3 separate regions of the Homo sapiens genome follow, and regions 2 and 3 are each reported to be linked to region 1. The links are microRNA targets in miRTarBase. Many come from high-throughput screens and were not tested one by one. Region 1 holds a microRNA gene; each other region holds the end of a gene's coding sequence.
Evidence for each region. The annotated mature microRNA hsa-miR-3691-3p reads ACCAAGUCUGCGUCAUCCUCUC and lies in region 1 at 3,855-3,876, opposite strand. An mRNA with a match to its seed (bases 2 to 7 or 8) in the 3' UTR can be bound and repressed. Matches are read on the target gene's strand: a 7mer-m8 pairs with bases 2 to 8, a 7mer-A1 pairs with bases 2 to 7 and ends in A, and an 8mer does both.

Region 1 (10,952 bases):
CTTTGGGAGGCTGAGGCGGGCAGATCACAAGCTCAGGAGATCGAGACCATCCTGGCTAACATGGTGAATCCCCGTCTCTACTAAAAACACAAAAAATTAGCCGGGCATGGCGGTGGGCGCCCGCAGTCCCAGCTACTTGGGAGGCTGAGGCAGGAGAATGGCGTGAACCTGGGAGGTGAGCCGAGATCACGCCACTGCACTCCAGCCTGGGCGACACAGCGAGACTCCGTCTCAAAAAAAAAAAAAAAAAAAAAAAAAAAAAAAGAAATACGTCAGGTGAATTTTCCAAACCGGGTATTTAATCAGTTAGCTACCCATGGCCCCAGGAGCTGGGAAATCACTTTGTTCCTGCCTGGGAGCAGGAGCTGCATGTGTCTGGGAGCTGCAGTGCGGCGCTCACTCCCGGGCTGCCCGGCCTTCCCTGCAAACCTCCGTAATCCCTTCCCGCAGGTGTTTCTGCGAGGCCACGCTGGGTGACCTCTGAGGTCTCCTTTAGGTCTGTGCTGAGACGCTTTGACGCGACATGGGAAGCAGGCGCAGGCCACAGAGTTTCTAGCAATGAGCCCAAAGTGAGAGTCAGTGTGATGGGGTGGCTCCCGGAGAAGGACACACTCTTCCCTGGGAACATATTTGAGAGGTAAAAGGGCAGGCCCCATCTCCAGGCCTGGCGCTGGAAGAGAATTCCACAGAAAGCAGAGAACAACGGGCACATCCCTGTGGAAAACACCAACCTGGCATTTCACACACACAATCCATGTGTTGGCATTCCGTCTTTAGTCACTGACAGGTCATATGAGTTGGAATCTGAGGCAAGCTTCTCCTGCCCCTTTCTCCCATTTGCTCCCCACACCTGGTTTCTCATTTAGAACAAAGGAGAGAAAGTGCAGTTTCGGTGAGTGGAGGAGCCGGCAGCATCTCCAGGCATTTCCATGTGGGGGGCACGCGCCTGTGTAAGTGCCTTATCGCCCTCACGCTGCAAACAGTGCTGCGAAGTCGGCACCAGTATTGTTCTCATTTTGCAGGAGAGGAAACTGAGGTTCATAAAGATTAATAAAACATGTGCTTAATTTCCCTTGGTGACTCCGGAGTCAACGCTCTTCATCACTATGACGGCGAGGGCGAGGCTGCGGAATTTCTCTGCCACACCTAAGGCCCTCTACCCACCAAGTAATAAAAAAGCTTCATCAGAAGGGAAAGCAATAGGACCCCAGCCTTATGAGGAAAAAACATCACAGCAGAGAAGGCTGCCAGGGAGGAGAAAAGAAAAATCATTTCCTATTTTCGATCCTCATGCCTATTAATATGAAATGGTAGAAAACATCAGAAAGGTCACCAATATGTCTTTAATATACGCCCACTTCACGTGGTCTTATTTACACCCACGGCTTCACCACCAATGCTCTAGTAATATTGACTGCTAGAGGTGGGCTCCTAACTCAAGCCCGCAAACCAGCATATTCAGCCTTTAAATCCCCTCTAGAGTTCCTGCATTCCATTCCATTCCACTCCATTCCCCTTGGCTCTCTCTTCCCTCAGCCGTCAAATGATCTCTTGCTTGGATTAGGTTTCTGCCTGGACACTATGCCTCTACGATCAACTCTGCAATTAATTTTTCTCATGATTGCAATTCCTCTAGCATATATATACATTCAATGAGATCGCTTCATTGCTCCAAATATTCGAATGCCACCTCATGGCACATGGTGCTTCTGGCACTGGATTCAGACCTGCCTGCCTCAGCACGGGCTGTGTCTCATCCACCACACATCACAAGCCTGTGAGTTCAGGGGCAGTTTAGTAGCATGTTTCCCGTATTCAGTCCTAGCAAATGAATTCCTGAGAACTAAATGAATCGTGCAAGGTGCTGAGGGGTCCCTTATTGATGCCCTGTCCCTAAGGAGACTAGACTTGACTCAGAGTAAAGAATGGGCCTGTGCCAGGTCTGTGCTTCCATCTTGCTCGCATGTTATCTTCTGAGGGGGTATTGTTACCTTCATTTTTTTTATTGGTGAAAAAACAGAAATGCCGAGAAGTTAGATAGTATTATACTTTTGTGCAGTCCATAGAGCTGGAAAAGGGAGAGCCAGGATTTATACCCCCAGGCAGGACCTGGAATGCTTGTGAAACGCAGGCCCCACTCAGTGGCCCACTCCACAGCTACCCTCCTTCCTTCTCAACACAGCCCCAATTTCCCCCTGAAGCGGGCCTCTTCCCAGCACAGCCCCCAGGCATCAATCTTGCTTGACGTTAGGCAGTTGTGGTGGGGCCCAGCTACCTGTCCAGTGAACAGCTTAGGAATAATTGCATACCACAACTCTGGCCAAAGTGGCTAGAGGAGGGGGTTCCTGGGCCTTCTGCAAAAGGGTTCTTTCCTCTCAAAAGAAGACAAGACTCAGGGGCTTTTCTATTTTTACTGTTGGACACTGCTAAGCTGGAGCCAGGAGGCCGGTCTGTGGGCAGACACACTGTTACATGAAATAATTCCAATACATTCTCACATCAGGGATTTAGAGGGAAAGTGAGAGACCATCAAAGATGGCCATTTTAGGTCAATTTACAGAAAAGCAGAAGAGCATGTGAGAGCTCAGCACTGAGATGGATGGAATGATTTCCCCATCATCTATCCCCCAGAGGCAGGGGCTTTTCCTAGTTGGCAGTCAAACCCCAGTGGCCTGCTGGAAGCCATTGGTACCAGGCCATTGGTATTACTTGAGTAGAACTGGGATTTATGTTTTCATGATGATCCTAATTGGGTCACAGGTAAGCTTTGCTGTGATGTTTGTGTTTGAGTCCACAAAAAAATTTTACAGTAATTTAAACCTGTATTTATGTTTGATACGAGCTCATTTTGTTACCTTAACAAAACAAGGGTGTGCTGGGATTTTGTTTTCTTTAAGCAGTTTAATGACTCCAGGAAGTAAACGTGTGTAGTTATGGTCTAGCTAAAGTCACTGATGTCATATTTTAACCTGGATTTTGGGTTAAATAATGGATAACGTACCTAATTAGGCTACCAGTAAACAATCACTGCAGGATTTCACCTAAAATGCCAGTGACCAGAAGTAGATGGTGTCCTCTTTCTCTGAAAACTGGGGATCAATGTGAGGTTACAGTTGAAACTATGGGTTATCAATGTCCACAGAATATACTGGCCCTAGGTAAGTAGAAAAAGTCCTTGAATTTGCTTAACCAAACTTTACATATGCTCATGTGACTACCTGTTTTATACATGGATTCCTTTTCATCTTTGAAGGAAGACAGGAAACAGGGATACTAAAATTCACATTCAGAAAATATTTCCATGTAGAGACGTCCATCTCCCCTCGGTTCTCTCCCTACTGCCTAAACATGCTTTGTTAGCAGGCCAAGTCAGACGTGGTCCACGGCAGGGTGAATTAGGCCCTTCTGTCTCATCGCTCCTTCCTTTTTAATATTCCCGAGGAAGTAACAGTATGGTACTTATTAAGCCAAATTTTCCTGGAAGCTCCAGGTCTCATTGATAGCCACGCTGATGAGAGATTACTGTCCGACTTTCCTTTTGTAAATTAGTGGGCAACTGGTTCTCTCCACATGGAGCGGGAAAACAATCTCTGTCTTCTTTCAGTTCCAGAACACACCAAGCTCGTTAGCACTCCCCAGGCCACCTGCCCTCCCCCACTCTCCCTTCACGTCACCTTACTCATCACCAGGTCCCAGATGAAAGAGCTCTTGCTCACAGAAGACATCCGTGACTGGTGTCCCGGCCACCCTCCCAGCCCGCCCTTTTGAACAGCACGTCTTACAGCTGGTTGTGTTTTACTCACCCGCATGCTCGTTTGTTGAACATTGGCTCCCAGACCGTTTGAGGCACTGAGGAGAGGATGACGCAGACTTGGTCCCCACCCTCAGCAGTGGGTACCGAGTCTCCATCATCCACTACCCAGTGCCTCAATATTCACTGAAACGTAAAAGCAGGAAGGAGAAGCAAAGACCTTTATGAGCCTCAAGGCTATGTGACACCCACAGATCAGCAGGGTATGCAGGACTTCCCGTGCTGTGTGGGGAGAGTTAGAATTCTGAATCGTAATCCTGAGCTGGGCTGAGGGGGCAGAGTTAGAACTCTGTATCGTAATCCTGAGCTGGGCTGGGTATACGCCTTGAACAAGTCATGGTGCCTTCTAAATAGTCTCAAGTGCAAAACATGGATGAGAAAATGAGAAAAGTTATAGAAAGTATTTTTTAATGAAAGAATTCATATTAGGTGACAGGTAATGACCTTTACACACACACACCTCTCTCTCTCTCTCTCTCTCTGCTTATAGTGACTGAGAAATCAGCTCTCCCATAACTTTACCAACAATAATTCTTGAAGATGAGAGCCTCTTGTCTGAAATCATTTTCCATTTATAGTTATATGAAAGATATAATGGAATAACTGCTAATTAAATCTATAAATATACATATAAAAATTACCTTGTCATTTGTAGCGCGCTTCCAAGTATAAAATTAAACGTGGTTCTGAATTTTTCCCCTAGAACTCTAAGTTTTCATTTCTTAATCGTCTAGAATAGCTCCTTTAATAAAATTTCATTTTTGACATGATGCTTGCTTGATATTTTAAAACTGTACTTTAAACCTGAAATTTCACATTAATTATTATATTTTTAGGATTGGAAAATGACACCATCTTTCAGATAAATGATTGGATGAGTAATATTTAGCCAATTTCGCTTTCTGTTGCAGGTACAGTTCTGAGTGTTCATTAATATTCAATGAAATTTCCATCAGTATGTATGATATTTTCAGGTTTTCAAAAATAAGTGAAATAGGCACTAATGTGGTGATAACACTAAAATGAGGGCCTGAAAGAAGCCCCGACACGTGGGAAAAGCCTGCTAACAAAGACGCACTGCAACAGAAAGACCTCACAGGAGAGGCCCTTCAACCCAGGATCGGTATTTTATGGCATCAGCTCATTAATTCCTCCAGGTCCCCAGGACACAGATATCAAGGATGGTGTCAGGCTCATTATCTCAGACACTGAAACTGAGGCTAGGGAGATTTTCAGTGGTTAACCAAGGTCAGATAGCATGTCGTAAAGCTGGGATTCAAACCTCTTTACATGTCTGCTTTCAAAGTCGTAGCTCAAACCACTGATCCTTATTGCTTCTCCAGAGAGATATTCTCCAAAATACTCTAGAATTAGGGGAAGCATTAATCTGAAAATCTTGGTATGTCTTCTGGGGGTGGGGGTGGGAAGAGGAACCCTGAAGTCCCTGACTACTGTGGAGATGAGGATATCAGAGGGCTTCTTATAAAGTTCTCATTGGAATAATAAAACTATGAGGTAATAGAAAATCTGGACCAAATTATATATACATTATTTAGATACGTAAACATCAGATACACAATTCCACTTAAAAGCATGCCTGTCCACACATGGACACACATATGCACAACAGGCAGGTGCAAGCCATTCCCAGAACATGTCGTCTTACTAGTTCATCATGGTACTACGTTTGTTACACCTCTGAATGATTTCCTACGAGCAAAACATCCATCACTTTAAAATAATGTTAAGACACTCTAGGATAAATGTAACAAAGGGCAAACGTCAAATGTTAAATCTTTATGCACAGAAGCAGATGAACACAGCAGCATGCCTCTGGCATCCCCAAGTCCTCGCTGACATTCAGACAGCCACCCTTGTTTCAGGCTACAGTAAAGCAGGGTATTAAGAGGCAGTAATGCACCGCAGCCCATCTGTCCCATAAAAGCTCAATACGTAAGCTTTGTAGAAGGCAGGTGATCAGTAACAGTGGTGAACCAGGTGTACATTATTTTAATCAACTACATTCTGGACCTTTATTCTCAAAGTTTCTAATGGCAAACGAATAAACAGAGAAACCAACCATATCTGCCCTCCTTGCAATTTTTTCTTCTTTTGGATTCTGATTTTCCCCTATTGTTGCACCTCCTTTCCTTCTCTGTTTAACCAAGGCTGGGGACCTTAGGCCATCAGACCTGGGTTCAAGTCCCAGCTTGGCCATGTATTAGTTCTGTGACCATGGATACCCTGGTTTCAGGTACTTTCTATGCAAATGGGATATAATAATGACACCTCATAGGGAGGTGAGGTCTGAGGTATGCAAAATCCTGAGCACAGTGCCTAGTACACAGTAGGCCCTCACTAATTGTTAGCTATTAACATAATTATTCTTTCTTTGTGGTCTCTCCTTTGGCCACCTTGAAAAGCATCTGAGATAGCAAATGTGCACATGTTCTGTGAGCAGCAGAGTGTCATGCATTTACTAATTCTCAATCGAGCCTCCAGCTCTCCCCTGCAAGCGTGTAACCGCTGCATGCTCAGGCTCTGACTACTATCTTGAGTTGTAGAACTACAGCTGAACCAATCTCTTGCAGCTTAGAGTCACTAAAATCAGAGTCCTCAATGTGTTTCTAAGGTTGGCTCCTGTTCCTGAGTTTGAGTTTGCTATTTCTGATGACACAGCCTTTATGAGAATGGTATAGCATTCTCTTCCATGTCTTCTTTTCTCCCTTCCTGACTTTTAATCTTCAATTCAAGCCCCTATCAGCTTATTTAATCAGTGTCTACACTAGTACTCTCATGGCATGGCTAGAAGTGACCTTTACTTATTTAACCTCTTACTCCAAATCTTCAGGGGCTCCAAAATGCCTTTTGTTTGTTTTGAATTTTTTTTTTTTTTTTTTGCAACGGAGTCTTGCTCTGTCACTAGGCTGGATTGCAGTGGCACGATCTTGGCTCACTGCAACCTCCGCCTCCTGGGTTCAAGGGATCCTCCTGCCTCAGCCTCCTGAGTAGCTGGGACTACAGATGCGTGCCACCATGCCCAGCTAATTTTTTGTATTTTTAGTAGAGACGGGTTTTCACCATGTTGGCCAGGATGGTCTCTATCTGTTGACCTCGTGATCTGCCTGCCTCAGCCTCCCACAGTGCTGGGATTACAGGCATGAGCCACCGCACCCGGCCTCCAAAATGCCTTTTAAATAATTTCTGAAGTCTCTGCCTGGCCCATCTCCCTTTCACTGGGTTTGCCCCGACTCCTTCACAGTTGTTGCCTCCAGGAAATCCTCTCCCCAGTCACACGTGCCAATTCCACCCACTTCTCGGTCCTTGAGCAAACGGCTCCTCTACCAGAAAATGCTTATCCTGCCCTCGGTGGCATATGCTATCTCCTGTATCAATTCGCCAAGCATTTTATCAGGAGGCAGCATGTTCTAATGGAGAAGGGATGGGCTTTCAAAGCAGAAAGGCTTGTTCTGAAATCCTGGCTCAATTTACTAGCTGCATGACTAGGGGCAGATTATTTATTCTCTGAATGTTTGATTCCTTATCTATAAAGTGGGATAATAAAATCCACCTCACCGGATTACTGTCATAATTAAATTAAAAGTCCATAAATTATCAAATAGAGTCTTTAGGGCACAGAGGGAGGCTTAACAAATAGAAGATAAGTTTTTCCTTGTTCTTTTCTACCAGTATTTTTCCCATTTTGCTTTCTGGGAGAATCCTGTGTGCCCCCATTTTGTCTCCCTGGCTGGATGACAGGCTCCAGGAAAGCAGGATCTTTGTGGGATTCACTGCTGCAATTGCTCACAGCATCTAGCAAGCTCCCAGACATGGGTGATTCACGCATATTTGATGAATGAATAAAAGAATGATACCATATTCTTGTCAATATGTATCACTGGAACCACTAAGTATGGGAACTGGAAAGGACCTTAGAGAAAAATCACTGACCCAACTTCATTCTATAGATGAGGAGCAACATGACGCTGAGAAGCTAAGCAGCTTGCCCATGGTTAGCACGCCAGTGAGAGCGGCAGACTCAGCTCTGTGTTTCTCCTGCCCTGCCAAGCTGCTTCCCTGATCAGCTGCAGGCAAGTATGTGATGCCAAAAGCATTTCCTAGGAAAGCGGCAACTAAGCGACAACTATGTCACTCGGGGAAACACCCACAAACAATGAATGACACACATGTACTACCTCCAGTGCCGGCATGACGTACTAGATTAAATAGGGGGCGAGAGCTGGCTTTTAATAATCTGCCATCCTTCTAATATTTTTTTAAAAACTATACCCCATCGTATCTTCTTTGGTGAAAATGTCCAGTCAGAAGGCATGGCTGGTGGAGGCAAACGGAGAAGTGAGGCAGCCCCAGCTGCGTGTCTGTCTCCGGCCTGGCTGTTCCCCTCTGTTGTACACGCTTCCTCCCTCAGCCCCATTACAAAGGTCTGCTTTACTCAGTGCCTGAGCTGATGCCTAGCTACTCTCATAATCAGCTAAGCTAATGTGCTCATGGAACTGTTTCCAGGGGATGGGACTGCGTGTTTCTGGGGAAAGCCTTCCTCTTGGGCCTCCTCTGTTGTTGGCTGGTAGGAATTCCAGGCTAGGTCACGGGGCAAATGGAAACACGCAGCAGACGGCAACTCTTTACCCACTGCCCTGTGCTGACAAACTTGCTGCCAGATGAGAAAGGCATAAGGGTGGCTTATTTAATGACAGGATTTAGAATTTTATTTATGTGACAACTAGTACTATATCCTTAGTAGCATACTTAAGGCCGCTGGGCTTGCAGGTTCCTTAAATGAAGGCAGTACGTACCTAATTCTGCCTCTGTGTCCCAGGACTGTCACAATACACTAGGCTGTTGGTTTTGTTTCTGTTGAACCATTGGTAATCTTATTATTATTTTTTTTGTGTGAGAGAGGGTCTCGTTCTGTCGTTCAGGCTGGAGTGCAGTCGTGTGATCTCAGCTCTGCCTCGCCTCCTGGGTTCCAGCAATTCTCCTGCCTCAGCCTCCTGAGTAGCTGGGATTACAGGTGTGCACCAACACGCCTGGCTAATTTTTATATTTTAGGAGAGATGGTGTTTTGCCATGGTGGCCAGGTTGCTGTCAAACTCCTGACCTCAAGTGACCCGCCCACCTCAGCCTCCAAAAGTGCTGGGATTACAAGTGTGAACCACCACACCTGGCGCCCTTGCTAATCTTAAACAAAACTAAGACACCAGGTCATAACACAGCAAGTCTCTTGTGCCTGCCCAGCTGGGCAGAGAGAAGCTGGACATCTGGAAACTAACTTGATGAAGTGCTGCTGTTCGGTGTGACCGGGGGCAACTCACAGAACCTTCCAGAGCCTCAGTTTCCTCTTTTGTGAAAGAGGCAATCACCAGTACCTCCTGACGAGTAAAGCCATGTGAAATACACACGGACACTCTTGGAAAACCTGTGGTTTTCAACAGTGATGCTCAACAAAATCACCTCTGTAAGTCTTCAAAAATACATCCTGATGTGTAGTCAGAACTGGCAACCACTGTTGTACGGTGCTCGACACATAAAGTAATCACTGATATATTGAGGGCTGTTCATGAACACTCAAATGAAATGACCATATATGCTGTGAATACAGACAGATACAATGAAAGACTCTAATAATTTTAAAACAGCAAACAGAGAGCCCGTCCCTTAGAAGTTGAACATCCCAGATAAAAATGCTAAATTGCAGCAATAAACCCTGAAACGCCCTAAACAGGGATATATGGAATGCTCTGATTGTAAATTGCTGGCTCTTCCCTACATCTAGTAAAGAAAATTACCTGCTAAATGTTATCATAAAAGCTACGGAAACATTTTTTTACCTAAGTTATAGAGTCAACCAAGAAAAAAACCCTATAAATTAGATATTCTAAATCTTTAAGCCACTAATTTTAATCAATATCAGTCTGGAGGTTTTAAATGACTTTCTCCTGAAACTCCCCACCCCATCAAGTAATTATCAGAAACATTGATTTCATTCCATATATTCAATCTTACAAGTTCATAAAATATTAGCCTATTAAGTTAACATAAAAATGTAATGCAGTAGAATGAAACAGTAGAAGGAACTCCATATAACACCTGCAAACTGTGTCTATAGGAGTCTGATTTTTAATATTTCACTGACCACCCCTATTCCCCCATCTCCAGCTCCCAAGCCCCAGGGTGGGTGAGAAAGGAGGTTGCAAAGGGCATCACGTGCTGGACAGAGAGTGGCATGCAGTATCTACGATCACACAGGACACAGATGGAAACATCAGAAGACAACCCAACACCTCATACAGATTAAAAAGAAAGGCGGATTCGGCCGGGCGCGGTGGCTCAAGCCTGTAATCCCAGGACTTTGGGAGGCCAAGGTGGGCAGATCATGAGGTCAGGAGATCGAGACCATCCTGACGAACACTGTGAAACCCTGTCTGTACTAAAAACACACAAAAGAATTAGCCGGGCGTGGTGTCACGCGCCTGTAGTCCCAGCTACTCGGGAGGCTGAGGCAGGAGAATGGCGTGAACCCGGGAGGCGGAGCTTGCAGTGAGCCGGGATCGCGCCACTGCACTCCAGCCTGGGCGACAGAGCGAGACTCCGTCTCAAAAAATAAATGAATAAATAAAAATAAAAAAGAAAGGCGGATTCACAAAGGTGCAGTAACTTCACCCAAATTACACAGTGTCAGAGGGGGGCATCAGGGTTCAGGTCTCCTCACCCCAGGCCTGGGACTTTTAATAAACAATGCCGTTCTAACAGGATGGTGGATGGGATGCATAGACGGAGCAAGAGTGACACAGAAGCACTGCTTCTTTTCTGTACAGAATTACTGAGTCCCCTACCCTGCCTACTGTGAGACGGATCTTTTATTATTATTATTTTTTTGAGATAGAGTCTTGCTCTGTTGCCCAGGTTGGAGTGCAGTGGTGTGATCTTGGCTCACTGCAAACTCTGTCTCCCGGGTTCAAGCAATTCTACTGCTTCAGCCTCCTGAGTAGCTGGGATTACAGGCATGCGCCACCGCCTGGATAATTTTTGCATTTTTAGTAGAGACGGGGGTTTCACCATGTTGGCCAGGCTGGTCTTGAACTCCTGGCCTCAAGTGATCTGCCTGCCTTGGCCTCCCATT
Region 2 (5,604 bases), not on the chromosome of region 1:
ACGGTGGTACGGTGGGGACACTAGCACTGCCACCCTTATAGGGGTGTCACAACGTTCCAGTGGGATAACGAGGCCCTTAGGGCATCACTCAATATCTAACACCCATTCTGCACAGAGGGCAGTTTTCTGACCCCATTTTCCAGAGGAAGGAATGGAAGCTCAGAGTGGGTAAGTAACTTGCCCAAGGTCACACAGTTCAGTGGTGGCGAAAACACCAATCCCCAGACTTCAGAGCCAGGCATCCTTTCCTCTATTTCATGGAGGATCTATGGAAGCAAAATACATCTGAAACATTCCAGTCTTCTTGAATTTCATTTATTGGGTGAAGTAAACAAGGTGTTTGTAAAAGATCTATGCAGTGACAGCCCCATCAGGCCTCAGCCATGTTAATGTGACCGCCTCCACCTTTCTGAGTCAAAGAGGGATAGTGGTTTAGCTTTCAGCTGGTGTCCTGACACCATGGTGATCCTGCCTTCCGATCTTTCTTCCCCAGTTGCTGCAGATGTTCTACCGGCAACAGGAGGAGATCCGAAGGCTCCGGGAGCTGTTGACCCAGCGAGAGGTCCAGGCCAAACAGTTGGAACTGGAGATCAAAAACTTGCGGATGGGCTCAGAGCAGCTCTGAGCAGAGACCTCTGCCCTCCTCACCCTCAGGGACACCACTCGGCTCCATGGGGAGGTTTAGAACCAAACCACAAGTCCCCTCAAGGACAACCACTATTTCTATATTTTTTACCAGAAAACAAAACTCTCCATCGCTGAAAGAGATTCCAGTGGGACATGGTGCCGTTTTTCTGTTTGCCTTCTTGCAACAACAGTTTCTGAATTGACTTTGTTTTCAGATGATGCCTTCTGTTGAATTCTGTTATTAAGGGCCCATGATGAGCTGTAACTTCTCAAGAGGAAAGAACACAGTAGAAAACTAGAGCTGGAAGGATCTAGGTTGACCTGTCTGTGATTTTCAAACTGTGGTCCAGAGAATAGGGGAAGACTGGGCCAGACGCAGTGGCTCATGCCTGTAATCCCAGCACTCTGGGAGGCTGAGGTGGGCGGATTGCTTGAGGTCGGGAGTTTGAAACCAGTCTCACCAGGCGCAGTGGCTCACGCCTGTAATTCCAGCATGTTGGGAGGCCGAGGCTGGTGGATCACGAGGTCAGCAGTTCGAGACCAGCCTGACCAACATGGTGAAACCCCATCTCTACTAAAAATACAAAAAAATTAGCTGGGCGTGGTGGCAGGCGCCTGTAATTCCAGCGACTTGGGAGGCTGAGGCAGGAGAATTGCTTGAAACCGGAAGGCGGGGGTTGCAGTGAGCTGAGATTGTGCCACTGCACTCTAACCTGGGCAATAAGAGCAAAAGTCTGTCTCAAAAAAAAAAAAAAAAGAAAGAAACCAGCCTGGCCAACATGGTGAAACCCCGTCTCTACTAAAAATACAAAAATTAGGCAGGGCGTGGTGGTTCACGCCTATAATCCCAGAACTTTGGGAGGCCAAGCTGGGCGGATCTTCTGAGGTCAGGAGTTCAAGACCAGCCTGGCCAACATGGTGAAACCCCGTCTCCACTAAAAATAAAAAATTAACCAGGCATGGTGGTGCATGCCTGTAATCCCAGCTATTTGGGAGGCTGAGGCAGGAGAATCGCTTGAGCCTGGGAGGCGGAGGTTGCAGTGAACCAAGATCATGCCACTTCACTCCAGCCTGGGTGACAGAGTGAGACTCCGTCTCAAAAAAAAAAAGTTGGCCAGCCGTGGTGGTGAGCGTCTGTAGTCCCTGCTATTCGGGAGGCTGAGATAGGAGAATTGCTTGAACCTGGGAGGTGGAGGTTGCTATGAGCCACGATTGCGGACTGCACTGCAGCCTGGGTGACAGAGCGAGACTCCATCTCCAAAAAAAAAAAAAAAAAGAGAGAGAGAATAGGGGAAGACTAAGCAGGAAGGCTGTGTCTCCCTTCCCCACACTGTATTCCAACCAGACAGCTCCCTTCTATTTTATATGTTGGGCTAGTATGAAAAACAATTCTGCTAGGAAAAAAAAATTTTTTTAGAAGTTTGAAAGCTAGTGATTTGACCCAAGTTCCTCATTTTACAGCTGGGGAAACTAAGGCCTAGAGAGAGGCAAGTGATATTTGTTTCATGGCAGGGCTGGGCTGAGATCCTGCTTTTCTGGGTCTGTCTTTTTGCTCTTTTGGGTCTGATGCAGTTCTCAGCCCAAAGAGTAGAAATCTGTTGCTTCTGGCCTCAGCTGTGCCCCAGCTTACTCAGTGACCTCTTGCAAGTCCTGCCCTCTCTGGTCTCAGTTTCTTCATCTGAACCAGGGGTACCCTGGAACAAGCTGCTCTCTGCAGGATCTGCCACCTGAAACCTTGACCTAAGAGAAAACTACCTGTGGGGTGATCTGGGTTTGCTACAGAAACTAACGGACACTGGCAAGGGGTCAGAGGCATTCAACCCAATTCTACAACACAGGCAGGTGGTCAAAACCAACCTTTCCAACCAGAATCAGCCTGATATGGATAGATGCTGTCCCTTATGGAGGGACGCAGACTTCAGAACTGTGCCCATGACTGCTGACTGCCACCACCAAGGCCCTCAGGTACACAGCCTGCCTCCTGCAGGATGATGTGGGCAGATTTCAGCCCTAGTTAACAGAAGAGTCCCCCAGGAGGTAGGGGGCCCCCATCACTGGAGACATGCCAGCAGAGCCTCTGGCCACCTAACCAGGAGGTCTTCTGAAATGACTATACGAGGTAAAGAAGTAGTACCAGATGGTCCCAAAGTTCCCTTTTAGCCTGAAAGCTTTTCTTTGTCCCTCCTTAGTGAATCTGTGTTCCGAGCCCTACTCTAAAGTTCAGTGGTCAATACAATAGTCCACCAAGAGACTGGGAATGATTAGAAGTGAAATTGGTCCCTCCTTACCAAGGAGGGGCAGATGATCTCCATTGCACAGGGCGATTAGATTCTGGAGCTGAGGTGGGGACTGCAGGAGGCCACCTAGTCTGGTAGGTTTCAACCCAAGCTGTGTACATTAGAATTCCCTTGGGAGCGTGCAGGAAATACAGATGCCCATGCCACATTCCAGACCAACTGAAGCTGAATCTCCAGAGTAGGGCCTGTATGGTCATATAAGCTCCACAGGTGATCTGCAGTACAGTGAAGATGGAAGACTGCATGTGTACCTATTTGCAATAAAGATGAAGAGGACAGCAAGCTCCAGACAGGAGCTGGGACTCAACCCAGATCTCTTAAGTCCTGCCTGGTGGCTCCTTAAAAGTCCAGAAGTGTTGCCCCAAGCCCTCCCTCAACATCTCTGGGAACCGCAGCTGCAGCACGATGGGGGTTCAGTGCCCCTGTTTGCCCCTTACCCAGCTGTGGTTTATTCTGCTTGTATGTCTGCACAGGCCGGATGCTCGTGTTCCTTGTCTTATTCTCCATTTACTCAGTCACTGGGGCTCACTCCCGTCTGATGCACTAGCCAAGATTGCCTTAGTGTGCTCCAGAAAAGAAGGCCAAATCCCAGGCATTGTCAGGGCAGCAGAGCTCTACAGGATAGGCTTACCTTTCCCACCTGTGTGGCTAGCACTTCACAGTTTACAAATTCCTCCCACCTCCACTCAGTGACACATGCTGTTCTAACACAGGTCAGGCAGGCATTACAGTCCCCATGTTCAGAATCAAAGACCTAGCCTCAGAGAAGTGAAGAAACATCATGCCAAGGTCATTGACTGCCAAGCGGTAGAGGTGGGGTTGCATCCAGAGAGCTTCCCGGTATGCCTCTGCACAATGCCATTCCTTGGCCAGCTCCCTCCACCCCAAGGGACCCAGACTGCACACTTAACAAACAGGACACAGGTGTCTTTGAACAAACTTTTTTGTATTATTATTTTTACATCTAGAATAAATTATTTAAATTATTTCACAGCAAGGGAGAGGGATAGGTAATTTTTATCAGATATTTTTTTAAACCATCTGTTTTTTAAATTACATTTTTGTTTATGTTCTTGAGCTGATGTAGTGGAACTTGCCTAGCACATTCAGGTCCCAGCCAGTTGGCAGAGCATGCTCTCATCTCCTTATTCCATACCCTGGGCGTCCCCTTTCTGTTGACTCAGGAACTTTCTGAGAATGAGGACAGCACTAGGAGATGAGCTTTGGCAGGTATCCACCTTAACGCTACAATAATTGTGCTTCCTGAAACAAAACTTGAGATTGTATCATAGAAGGAAACAGGAAGTCAGAAATCAAATCTATGCTTTTAATTGAAACCGTGCCTGAAACAGTTTGAATGATTGTTTTAATGTTGTTTCTGAAATTCCTTGTACCTTTGTGAAAAATAATGATAATAAATAAAAGTGAAAATAAATAGATGTGGAATATGCAATGGAAATAATGTAACAAAATAATAAACATCTGGCCATTTTACTACAAGGAGCTTTCCTTTTCTTGATTTGTTCCACAAATACCAATTAACTATCTACTCTTGGAGTCAGACACCAAGCTGGAAAACAGGCAGAACAGACAGTCTTTGCCCTCTCCAGTTTTCAGTCATGGCTGCGGGAATGGGGAGGGCCAGGATAGGGAAAGCATAGGCTGTTCTGGAAGGAGAAGGAGGGAAGGCTTCCTGGAGGAAAAGATAGTAAGGTAGAAACCTGCAGAGTAAGTTGGAATACTCAGGGCAAAGGGCATTTGGGAAGAAGAATGTTCCAAGCAGGGTAAACTGCACGTCCCCCAGTCTTGAAAAAGCACAGGGTGGAGCATAGGCAGGGCGGAGACCAAGGATCTTAAGAAAGAGCTGAGGGCTTTATAAGTGGAAGTCTAGACTTGAGCCTGGGGGGGCAACTGGAATTTGGGGTGGTGGTGTGTGTGTGAAAGTTGTCAGTACCAAAACAGAGTCACTTACATCAAAACCAAACTAAATGGTGCTCCTGTAGTCCCAGCTACTCCAGAGATGAGGTGGGAAGATCACTTGAGCCCAGGAGTTAGAGGCTGCAGTGAGCTATGATCGCACTATTGCACTCCAGCCTGGGCAACAGAGCGAGATCCTGTCTCAAACAAACTAAATGGTGCTGGGAGGCCATGAAGTGGGGGGCCCTCATCAACGATTTGCCTGGTAACAGGAACTATTATTGCAAAAGATTCCACCAAACTGCAACCTTGCACAAAGAACCACAACCTTGCACAAAAGCCATGATATGAGGACATCTGCCCAGCAACTGCCTGTTCAACTTTTGGACTGAAGCCACCTGTATTAATTCTTGTAACCAAGTATTATTATTTTAAAACGATCTGGCCGGGCGCGGTGGATCACGCCTGTAATCCCAGCACTTTGGGAGGCCGAGGCGGGCAGATCACGGGGTCAGGAGATCGAGACCATCCTGGCTAAAACAGTGAAACCCCTTTTCTACTAAAAATACAAAAAATTAGCCGGGCGTGGTGGCGGGCGCCTGTAGTTCCAGCTACTCGGGAGGCTGAAGCAGGAGAATGGCGTGAACCCGGGAGGCGGAGCTTGCAGTGAGCAGAGATGGCGCCACTGCACTCCAGCCTGGGCGACAGACCGAGACTCCGTCTCCAAAAAAAAAAAAAAAAAAAAAAAACAAAAACAAACAAA
Region 3 (10,952 bases), not on the chromosome of region 1:
AGTCCCTCCCCATGGGGTCTGGGGACTGCGATGTCAGCAGCTTTGAGGGGCTATTATCCTACCCCAGTTCATCCTTTGGCCCCTAAAGCTTCATGTCCATCCCATGTGCAAACATACTCAGCCCATTTTAAGGTCCCCAAAGTCTCAACCCATTGCAGCATCAACTCAGACTCCCAAATCTGTGCCTAAACTATCTAATCGTGTGTGGGCGAGAATGAGCTGTGGCCCAGTCCCGGCACTGTCGCGTCACTGGCTGTGTGATCTCGGCCTCAGAGCACACCTGCCCCTCGAATCCTGCCTAGGTGCTGGTGGGATCTGAGGCTTGGTGCTCCAGCTCCCCTGCCCCTCGGATCCTGCCTGGGTGCTGGTGGGATCTGAGACTTGGTGCTCCAGCTCCCCTGCCCCTCGGATCCTGCTGGGGTGCTGGTGGGATCTGAGGCTTGGTGCTCCAGCTCAGCCTTGGTGTGGGTGTTTTCCACTCCTTTCCCCAGAGCATGCCTAGAGCTTGCACACGATCTTCTGAAACACGGCAGGCGTGACAGTGCAGAGTGTCATGGCAGCATTCTGATTGCTGTTTGTTTTCAATCACAGGAGCAAGCCAGAGCCAAAACGCAAACGCCCCCTGTGTCGCCCGCACCTCAGCCAACCGAGGAGAGGCTGCCCTCGAGCCCCGTCTATGAGGTTGGTGTCTTTGGTGTTTGAATGAGCGTGAGTGACTTACTGCCAGAGCCCAGGTCCTGTTTGTGGAGTGGAGGAAGCCCTTGCAGGCAGGCAGTGTGGCGTGGGTGTAGAGGGCATCGCTGCATTCCACGCCCGGAGAGGGGTGGGCCAGGAGCGCCTGGGGGGTGGGTGACATGCCTCAGTGCTGTCAGGGGATAGCTGTGCAGGCCCACATGCCATCCTTTCACCCCTCTGCAGCCTGTTGTAGTCTGGCCACTGTCACTGCAGTCCCTGCTGTAGTCACCTGCTATCAGATAATCAGATGGGGGTGTCTTCACCCCACTTGCTCTCTGCTGTGCAGGACGCCGCCTCACTCCCTAATGGCAGTGCTGCCCTCCTTCATCACTGAGCCCCTGCCTCCCGCACAATCTGCCTTCTATGCCTGCCCCATTCAGCTCTCCAGCCTTGCAGCCCCTCATGAGTGTGGCTGCAGACATGCTGTCCGGCCCCTCCCTGTGCTGCTGACCCCCTCTCATGGGTCCCCCAGTGTTCCGTCCCCATCCCTGAGTTACGGAGCCGCCTGCCGATGCCCCGCCCATCCCTGACTTTGGGTCTCCTGCTCCCCGCCAGCACCTCTGCGCTAACCACACCCTCTACCTGTAACCACCTCTCCTGTCCCCAGCCCTTGCCCTTTCTCCATCCCATGGCCATCATCCTGGTCTATGCATTCATCTCTGCTCGCCCAGGAGCCAGTCAGTTACAGGGGTCACACTCCAGACCATGGTAGTTCAGGAGCCCAGAGAGAGCCCTGGAGACAGGCCGGGTCTGGGATCTGGGCCTCGATGGCCGTGGCCTTGTCACCACCCGACTGTCCCTCCTTGGCTACGCTGCTGCCTGCTGCCTTTACCCTGCCGGGCCCTGGGGGGATGTGGTAAGTGAGGCCTTGCAGCTTGTCAGGAACCGGCCTCCCCCTCTAGTCCCTCCCCTTGGCAGCCAGCGCCATCTGCCTCAAGGAAGCTCCGACCCTGCCCCTCCCGTGCAGTTCAGCCCTTGTGTGGTTCCTGGTGCCTGTGCTGAGGGTGGAGTCGCTCTCCCTGCCCGATTACTCTCCCTGGCTAGCAGCTCTCCACCACTGGCTCTTCCCAGATCTCCTGGGTGCGCGGTTCTGAGCTGTCGGCATTGCTTTCTTTCAGTCACTGCCGGTGACATCAGGTGGACCCTGGTCAGAAACATTGATTAAAGCCACTGTCGGTGATAAGCAGTTCAGAATTTTCGCTGGGGCTCCGAAGCGGCAGTGGTTATAGATAGAGAGGTGTTCCACTGCGCACCTTTGTAGTTGAATGTGATTCTTTGGCGATGCCCTGTCTGTAGGCTCAGCTGCTCTGGAGCCACGTGGTGAAGCCGCTGTCAGGCAGGGCCAGGGTCGAGCAGCACAGGCAGGAGGGTGGCCGCTCGGCCCAAGGGTGCCTTGTGTGGCCTTGGAGATGAGGCCTAAAAAAAGAAATCAGCCAAATTAACCCAACAAAGACAGGCTCTACCCCCAGGCAACAGTGTGGGCAGGGGCGTGTCTCCTAACCTGCTGTGTGGGCGTGGTTATTGCAGGACTGGAGTGTCGGTGGTGAGGACCGGGTCATCATCGGGAAGGAAATGGCATGTGGGCACTCACCACCATGGTGAACACACCGGCAGGCCTGGCCTTCCTATACCGCGTCTGTTTTCTCAGTCCTGGCTGGGACTGAGAATTAGATGGCCCGTGGGTTTCTGCTGGCTGTGGCAGTACAGCTACTGCTCTCTAGAAGCCAGCATGGGCCCCGTGCCATGTGCGTGTGACCCTTCCCCAGGATGCGGCTTCCTTCAAGGCAGAGCTGAGCTACAGAGGCCCTGTGAGTGGGACGGAGCCGGAGCCCGTGTACAGCATGGAGGCCGCTGACTACCGAGAGGCCAGCAGCCAGCAGGGCCTGGCCTATGCCACAGAGGCTGTCTATGAAAGCGCAGAGGCCCCGGGCCACTATCCCGCAGGTACTGGGGCCCCACGCTGCAGCGCCCTGCCCAGGGCAGGGAGCTCCCGGGACATCCTGCTCGACCTGTGGCGTCGTTGCGAGGAGCGTGGGTTTCCCACTGACACGCCTTTGCTTGCTTGCTATAGGGTCTTCTTGTCCCTGGAGGGAAGTGCTCTAGGCACATTTGGGGCATCGGCTCCTGTGCTGGGTCCCAGGAAGATCCCCATTGTGCTGGGGACGGGTGGGCAGGGGCAGAGGAAGGGAGGGTTTCAGCTGCCGCCCTGTGTCCTTGAGACAAAATCTTAGGAAGTGTCGTCTAAAACTTGAGAAGGCTGGGAACCTGTGTGGGACTTTGTATTGTTCAGCTCTGTCATGGCTTTCTTTTAGAGGACAGCACCTACGATGAGTACGAGAACGATCTGGGGATCACAGCCGTCGCCCTGTACGACTACCAGGCTGGTGAGCGGCCTGCAAAAGCACTTGGAGGGGAGACCCAGGCAGCTGCGCCTGCCTCTGCTTGTTTTCTGAGAATTCACTTCTCTAGCGTTGTTAGTTTTAGAAGTAATTTATGTTGAGATAATTTCAGAGATATAGAAAAGTTGCAGGTATAGTGCCAAGAACTCCCATGTTCCCTACCCGGATTCCATCTCTGCACACACACGCACACACCCCCTGTTATCTTTAGTATTCTCTGAACCCTTGGAGAGCTGCAGGGGTGCTGCCACCCCCAAAGACTCCAGCGTGTTTCCCAAGATCAAAGATGCTGTCCCACAGGGACACCCCACCCTCCAGGTGAGGGGGCCGCACAGATGCCTTGATGTTCGAGACCCCATTCCTGCCTGTCCTGCCCCGGCCGCCAGCTCCCGTGTGGCCTGCACGTTCCCCTGAGTTCCCTTTGCGGCCTTGGCAGTTTAAGAGCAGCCTCAGCTCCTGGGCTGGCCTCAGCCGCCCGCCCCGTGTTCCCTCAGGGCCAGGCTGAGCTGTGCTCTGGTGGCGGTGAGGTCTTGGAGACCATGCGGTGGGGCTCTCTGCTGGGCCGCATAGCATCCACTTGTCCCTCTGTCTCAGCCACCACCTGGTCCACAAAGTCACCACCACCCCTCTGCAGTTGACAAGCATCTTACGGGTGGCGTGGGATTCCCCTCAGAACCCCCGGCCTCTGCCTCTTGAGTGCTTCCCGTTTGCAACTTTCCATCAGCGCGGAAGCTGGCATTCTACCATAAGTGAGCGCTGGCCGTCCCCGTTCAGTGCCTTTTGCACACGTGCATTTGCGTACACGCATGTGGGTGTGTCTGTGGCATCTCGGCACCTGTGCGTGGATTCTCATCACCGTGGCTTTTGCCCTCCATTCCCATTTCAGCCATCACCTCGGGCTTCTCTCCGGGTGTCCCCTGGCTGTCCTTCCACTGCGGCCTCCGCAGCCCATCTCCCCACCCCCTCCACAGACACGTCTGCCAGAGAGAGGGGAAGGGAGGGCAGGCGGGGCTGGAGTTATGTGGTGGAAACCTGCTCCTGAGGAAGGGGTCCGGGTGGGGTTGGTGCTTGTGTGAAGGGCTCTGTGCCTCTTTGTACTCTCTCGGTTCATGTTCACAAATCCTGGCCTTGGTGGCATGGGAGAGGCAGCAGGAGCCTCCGCGGTGGTCCGCATCTCTGCAGGGGGCATCTCTGAGCAGGCTGCCTGGGAGCTTGCTCTGGGTTGTGCTTTTTTTCTGGCAGACCAGGAAACGCTTGCACTTCAGCATCTTTCTCTGTGTTCTCTTCCCCAGCGGGCGATGATGAGATCTCATTTGACCCTGATGACATCATCACCAACATCGAGATGATTGACGACGGCTGGTGGCGCGGGGTGTGCAAGGGCCGGTACGGGCTCTTCCCAGCCAACTATGTGGAGCTGCGGCAGTAGGGCCCCCAGCCCCCCCCCGGAGCTGCGCCCTGGATCCTCACACTACAGATCAGGCCTTCTTTGGTTCTTGGGTGGTTTTGGGTTTTTTCTGTTTTTTTTTTTTTTTTTTTTTTTTTGAAGGTGGGGAGGGGAATATACACATTGCTTTTATATTTAATACTTTTGCTGATGCTTTTGAAAATGTTTATGCCACAGAATTTGCTAATATATTGTAATCACATTCCTTAGGAGGACTTTGGTAATTGGTTTTATGCATTGATGGTTTTTTTTTTCTTTTTTGCCAAATTGACTGTCACGCGGCAGCTTCAGGGAGCTCGCATTCTCTTGTGTTCGTGTTGCCCTCGTGCCCATCAAGTGCAGTCGGGACCTCCCAGGACAAGCACGAGGCCTCAGGTCGGCCCTGTGGCGGGTAGGCAGGAAGGACTGTCCCAGACGAGGGGCTTCCTCTAGAGTCTCACTGCTGGGGAGGAGAGGACTGGGCCTGATGGAAGTTAACCCGGAGCTAAGTCACCCAGAGCACAGGAGCTGCCATGTCAGATGGGAAATCTGCCTATGTCATACCGTGACAGCCCGCAGGATCAGGTGACTTCTAGCAGAGACCCTGGTTTTTTTCCTGTGCCCACTCCGGCTTGTCCTCATCTCTACCCATCCCCTGATGCCCAGGTCACCGGGAGGGCTGCTGGGAGCCTCTCCTGTCCCCGCCGGGCAGTGTCACTGAGTCCTTGAAATCCTCCCCTGCCCCGCGGGTCTCTGGATTGGGACGCACAGTGCAGTTGAGGTCTGCGTCGGGCTTGGCTTTTCACAAAGGCTGATGTCTTAACTGTCACCCATATGGTCCCTGGGCCACCGGGCAGCCTGGGGCGGTGTGTGTGCCATGTCACAGCATGGCCTCTCGGCCTTGGGAAGGAAGGCAGTGCCTGCTCTGCTGTGAGCCGCCAGGAACCCTCCTCCTGTCAATGGGGGTGTAGTATTTTTGCCAAAATATCATGTTCAATTTCAGTAGTTTGATCAGTTGAAGGCTAGAAGTGTGAAGTGCAGATGAGTGTGTGTTCTTCCCCAAGGTCCCCCCACAGCTCCAGGACACCGCTGTCCTGGCATTTGTGGCCACTCACTTTGTAGGAAACTCATCTCCTTCCTGAGGAGCCGGGAGGCTGGACCAGTCCCGTCGTGCAGTCAGGTGGGCGGTGTGTCTTTCCAGAAGGTCACGTGGAAATGTCTCGGGACTTGGGTCCCGGAGTGCCCGTGAAGCGTGTTTTTGCTCCTGAGGTGCATTTTCTCATCATCCTTGCTTTACCACAATGAGCAATGAGGTCGGGTTTTATATGCAACTTATTGTATCTGAATTCCTGTAGCACACCTCATAGGTATGATTTTTTTAAATTAAAGAATTCAGAATAAACATTTTTTGATCCACTTGCGTGATTTGCTTTGGTCTGTGGTCACTCCGTTCTGCAGTGGAAGCTGCGTCGACACTCTCGGTGTCCTGCGCCCCGGACCTGGGCTGGCGGAGGCTCTCCTGCCGTCCAGTGCGTCTCACGCGTTCTGTTCTGGCTTTAGACCGAACCGTACGTTCCCTTTTCAGTGTTCATTCAAAGGTGCTGCTTATGAACTGAAATGTGTTTACTCTGGCAGATGATTCAGTTTTTTGCACAAAGGTTCCAAGCAAAATAAAACACTCTGTGCTTAAAAGTCATTTCTGAATTACAGTTCTCAAATCCTGAGGGGGATTTTGCTCCCAGTCTCGTTTTGCTCAGGGGCACCAGAAGTTAAAGGCTAAGGGGAACAGTGGCACTGAGGGAGCAGGTGTGCCCTCGGGAGCCGGGGGTGCTGGGGAGCTGGGTTCCGGCTCACACTTCTGCCCATCAGGTGCTCCCAGGGAGCTTTCGGCTACACGACATGCCTGCTACCCCTTCCAACCTGGGTGGTGACGGAGCACTGCCTCCTCCCTTGGGCTGTCCCACACCTGCCTCTGGCTTAGGAAACAGTGCCTCTGCCAGCTCTGCCCACAGGAGCCTAACGTGAGAGTGCCCCCGCCCTCCTGCCACAACCGGGCTGCTGTGGGTTCTGCATCACAGGGTTGCAGCCCTAACGGCGAGCCCCGTCCCACACAGGGCCTGTCTGCTGGGTGAGATTGCAGCCACCTGCAGGGAGCTGAGTCCTGAAGAAATGAGGCATGAAGGCTTGTGAACCAGGGGAAAGTCCCAGCCAGGGTGGGCAGACGGGGTCAGGGGGCTGGAGGACAGGGTGTGACGAAGGGAGGGGGCCATGCAGAAAGGGCCCCCGCTGGCCCACTGTCTGCCCAGTCGGTGTGTGCCTGTGCCGCCTGCGGATGAGCATGGCAGGGGCTCAACAGGAGCGGGACACATCTTGAGTGGGTCTGTGTTTCTGTTCTATTGGTGGCCAAGCGTGGCCTGGCAGCTTGAGTGCCTGGAGCCAACCACCTGAATCTTAGCCGCTTTCTTTTTAGATGTGGTTGGGGTTTTTTGTTTCTGTTTCTTGAGAAAGGGTCTTGCTCTTTCGCCCAGGCTGGAGTACAGTGGCGTGATCTCCGCTCCTGCAACCTGTGCACCCAGGGCTCAAGCAATCCTCCCACCTCAGCCTCCCAAGTAGCTGGGACTACAGGTGCATGCCACCACACCTGGCTACTTTTTGTATTTTTAGTAGGGACGTGGTTTCACCATGTTGCCCAGGCTGGTCTAGAACTTCTGACCTCAAGTGATCTACCTGCCTCGGCCCCCCGAAGTGCTGGGATTACAGGGATGAGCCACCGTGCCCAGCGTAGATGTGGTCGTTTTAATGTCAGCTCACCGTGCCTTCTGTCTCAAAGTTGGATTCACTCCCCAAGTCCCCTCTGGCCTGAAGAACAGCCTAGGGGCATGCTTGCCTGGGAGCAGCTTGCTCTCAGCCTGCTGGAGGAGGGAGGGCAGGACATGGACGTGCTTTTCTCTCTTGGTGCCCAGACATGGAAAACGATTTTGTGGCACATAGGGAGCCGTCGGCACACAGGCACCTCCAAGAGCCACTGGAGCCACTGCTGGCCACTCTGGGCGCTCAGATGTGGGCACAGCATGGAGAGTGCTTTGTCGGGGTGAAAATGCTTACTTTGCTCCTGGAAGATATGCTGGCGAATGCTTCTTCAACCCAAGATGTTCAGAGTGGCTGACATGGTATTAACTGTGCACATACTGTGTGCTGGGCCTTGGAGGGGAGATGTTGAGTAAGAGAGATGGCTCAGCACTGGGGAAGCTGACACAATAAATCTGATTCCACCACTGTGCTGATTTTTATTTTTTTAATCAATTTATTCTTTTTGAGACAGAGTCTTGCTCTGTTGCCCAGGCTGGAGTGCAATGGCACAATCTCAGCTCACTGCAACCTCCACCTGCCAGGTTCAAGCAGTTCTGCCTCAGCCTCCCGAGTAGCTGGGACTACAGGTGTGCACCACCACGCCTGGCTAATTTTTGTATTTTTAGTAGAGACAGTTTCGCCATGTTGGCCAGGCTGGTCTCAAACTCCTGACCTCAGGTGATCAGCCTGCCTCAGCCTTACAAAGTGCTGGGATTACAGGCGCGAAGCCACCGCGCCCGGCCCCCACCACTGTGTTTAATTCTAACCAAGGAGAAGAGGAAGTTCTGAAAGGAGAACAAGGAGATCTGAGAACACGGCTCGGGCCTGGCCAGGGGCCTCTCAGAGGAAAGCTCTCCCTGTTGCGTCCCTCCACGCCAGGGCCTGCGTGGAGTGGGCACGGTTTTTGATACCTGCCTTGCTGACCTTCAGCTCCAATTTCTTCATCTGAAAGTGAGGATAAAAGAATTAACCCCTCTTTCTAGTCAGATGCCTGCTAGATCCATTTACCTGCTTGAATTTGAGATGTATTGCCAGGATACACCTCCACAGTCTGATGGAACACACTGAAGATATCTGAACAACAAAAGGTAACAATAGATTTTAATAATTTTTACTTGTTTTGCCTGAAACATGAGGATTCTCCCCTTTTCTCATCTCAGTCCCATGTTTTTTGGTTTTGGGGTTTGAGACGGAGTCTCACTCTGTTGCCCAGGCTGGAGTGCAGTGGCACAATCTGAGGTCACTGAAGCCTCCGCCTCCCAAGTTCAAGCAATTCTCCTGCCTCAGCCTCCTGAGTAGCTGGGATTACAGGCACCTGCCATCATGCCTGGCTAATTTTTGTATTTTTAGTTAAGATGGGGTTTCACTGTGTTGGCCAGGCTGGTCTTGAACTCCTGGCCTCAAGTGATCTACCTGCCTCAGCCTCCCAAAGTGCTGGAATTACAGGTGTGAGTCACCGCACCCGGCCCCTCAGTCCTGTGTTTTGAATTCTGTTGTTTCTTTTCTCCCATTTTCCCTCTGATTATTTCTTCTGACCTGTTTGACCTCCCATGGGAAGACGAGCTCTGCTTTTGATGATGATTGTGAAAATGCACACAGACAGCAACATAGTCAAAGAATTCTATGTTGTGTGATAAGGTGCTTTTTTTTCCTACCTACTGTCATTGTTATAATAGTGCTTCTTCGATTAAAAACCATTTGAGACAGCTCCGTTGTCATTTGTGAGCTGTCAGCTCGGCCCAACTTAGCTATCTCTGGATTTAATGTTTGTTCATATTTTCTGTGAATTACACCTCCTGCTATTACCTAGGAATAGAGCTGTCCCTCGGTACCTGCAGGGGATTGGGCCCAGGACCTCCCTCCTGTACCCAAATCTGCACATACTCAAGTCCCCCAGTCCCCTGCAGAACCCACATCTATGAAAAGTTGGCCTTGTGTGTGCAGGCTTTGCATTCTGTGAATACTATATTGTTTGTTGTTTTTGAGACAGGGTCCCTGTCACTCAGGCTGGAGTGCAGTGGAGTGACACCATCATAGCTCACAGCAGCTTCCACCTCCCTCACTCAAGCAATTTCCTACCTCAGCCTTCTGAGTAGCTGGGACCACAGGTGCACACCTGCCATGCCTGGCTAATTTTTTTTTTTTAGGTCTTTGTAGAGACGGCATCTCACTATGTTACCCAGGCTGGTCTTGAACTCCTGGCCTCAAGCCATCCTCCTGCCTCAGCCTCCGGAAGTGCTGGGATTACAAGTATAAACCACTATGCCCAGCCCGAATACTGTATTTTTTATATGTTTGATTGAAAAAATATGCGTATAAGTGGACGCTCACAGTTCACACCCTTGTTCAAAGGTCAGTTGTGTTCTCCTGAGTAGGTTGTGTGAATGAGATGCACGTGAGTCCCTGCAGGCCCAATCTCCCTCTGGTGGGCAGAATCCTGGCCTCCCAAAGATGTCTAGATCCTAATCCCCAGAACCTGTGATGATGTTACCCCGCATGGCCAAGGAGAATTAGGTAGCAGATGGAATTAATGTTTCTAATCAGCTGGCCTTCAAATTGGGAGATTATCTTTTCAGCACATGGCACTGGGAAAGTGAAATTCACATGCGAAAGAGTGATGTTGGTCCCTTACCTTTCACCAGACAGAAAAATTAACTGAAAATGGATTAAAGACCTAAACACAAGACCTAAATCTATAAAACTCTTAGAAGTAAACGGGGAAAGCTTCATGACATTCATGATTTGGCAATGATTTCTTAGATACGCAACCAAAAGCACAGACAACGAAAGGAAAAATAGCTAAGTTGGGCCGAGCGTGGTGACTCACGCCTGTAATCCCAGCACTTTGGGAAGCCGAGGCGAGCGGATCACTTGAGGTCAGGAGTTTGAGACCAGCCTGGCCAACATGGCAAAACCTGTCTCTACTAAAAATACAAAAATTAGCCAGGCGTGGTGGCACGTGCCTATAGTCTCAGCTACTTGGGAGGCTGAGGCACGAGAATCGCTTGAACCTGGGAGGCGGAGGTTACAGTGAGCCGAGATCACGCCACTGCACTCCAGCCTGAGTGACAGAGCAGGACTCCATCTCAAAAAAAAAAAAAAAAAAAAAAAGGTAAGTTGATTGTCATTTAAAAAACAGCATTGAAGGACATAACAATGAAAAGGGAACCTAGAGAATGGGAAGAAATATTTGCAAGTCATACGTCTGATAAGGGGGTAATGTCCAGAATATTTAAGGAACTACAGCTAAACAACAAACCCAAAGCATTTAAAAACGGGCAAAGGATTTGAATAGATGTCTCAAAGAAGATACACAGATGGAAAACGAGCAGGAGAAAGGATTCCCAGCATCACCCATCATTAGTGAAATGCAAATCAAAACCACATGGAGGCTGGGCACGGCGGCTCACGCCTCTAATCCCAGCACTTTGGGAGGCCAAGGCGGGCGGATCACGAGTTCAGGAGATCGAGACCATCCTGGCAAACACGGTGAAACCACGTCTCTACTAAAAATACAAAAAAATTAGCCGGGCATGGTGGCG

Region 2: miRTarBase lists CORO2A as a target of hsa-miR-3691-3p. Seed matches in the 3' UTR shown: 7mer-m8 at 1,256-1,262.
Region 3: miRTarBase lists CTTN as a target of hsa-miR-3691-3p. Seed matches in the 3' UTR shown: 7mer-m8 at 5,785-5,791.

Annotation. Positions count from the first base shown.
Region 1 is chr6:5,144,392-5,155,343 of GRCh38, forward strand. MIR3691 (microRNA 3691) reads right to left here and starts at 3,931; the gene lies at 3,842-3,931. All of the region lies in intron 2 of LYRM4 (LYR motif containing 4), which reads right to left. The region is part of intron 3 of LYRM4-AS1 (LYRM4 antisense RNA 1); the gene reads left to right.
Region 2 is chr9:98,119,795-98,125,398 of GRCh38, reverse strand. CORO2A (coronin 2A) reads left to right here. Exons shown (of 12, transcript NM_052820.4): 12 at 494-4,424. The coding sequence ends at 625. Among named protein-coding and RNA genes, the nearest start is that of TRIM14, 3.4 kb to the right of the region's middle.
Region 3 is chr11:70,430,600-70,441,551 of GRCh38, forward strand. CTTN (cortactin) reads left to right here. Exons shown (of 18, transcript NM_005231.4): 15 at 592-681; 16 at 2,502-2,679; 17 at 3,048-3,119; 18 at 4,427-5,976. The coding sequence ends at 4,563. Among named protein-coding and RNA genes, the nearest start is that of CTTN, 38 kb to the left of the region's middle.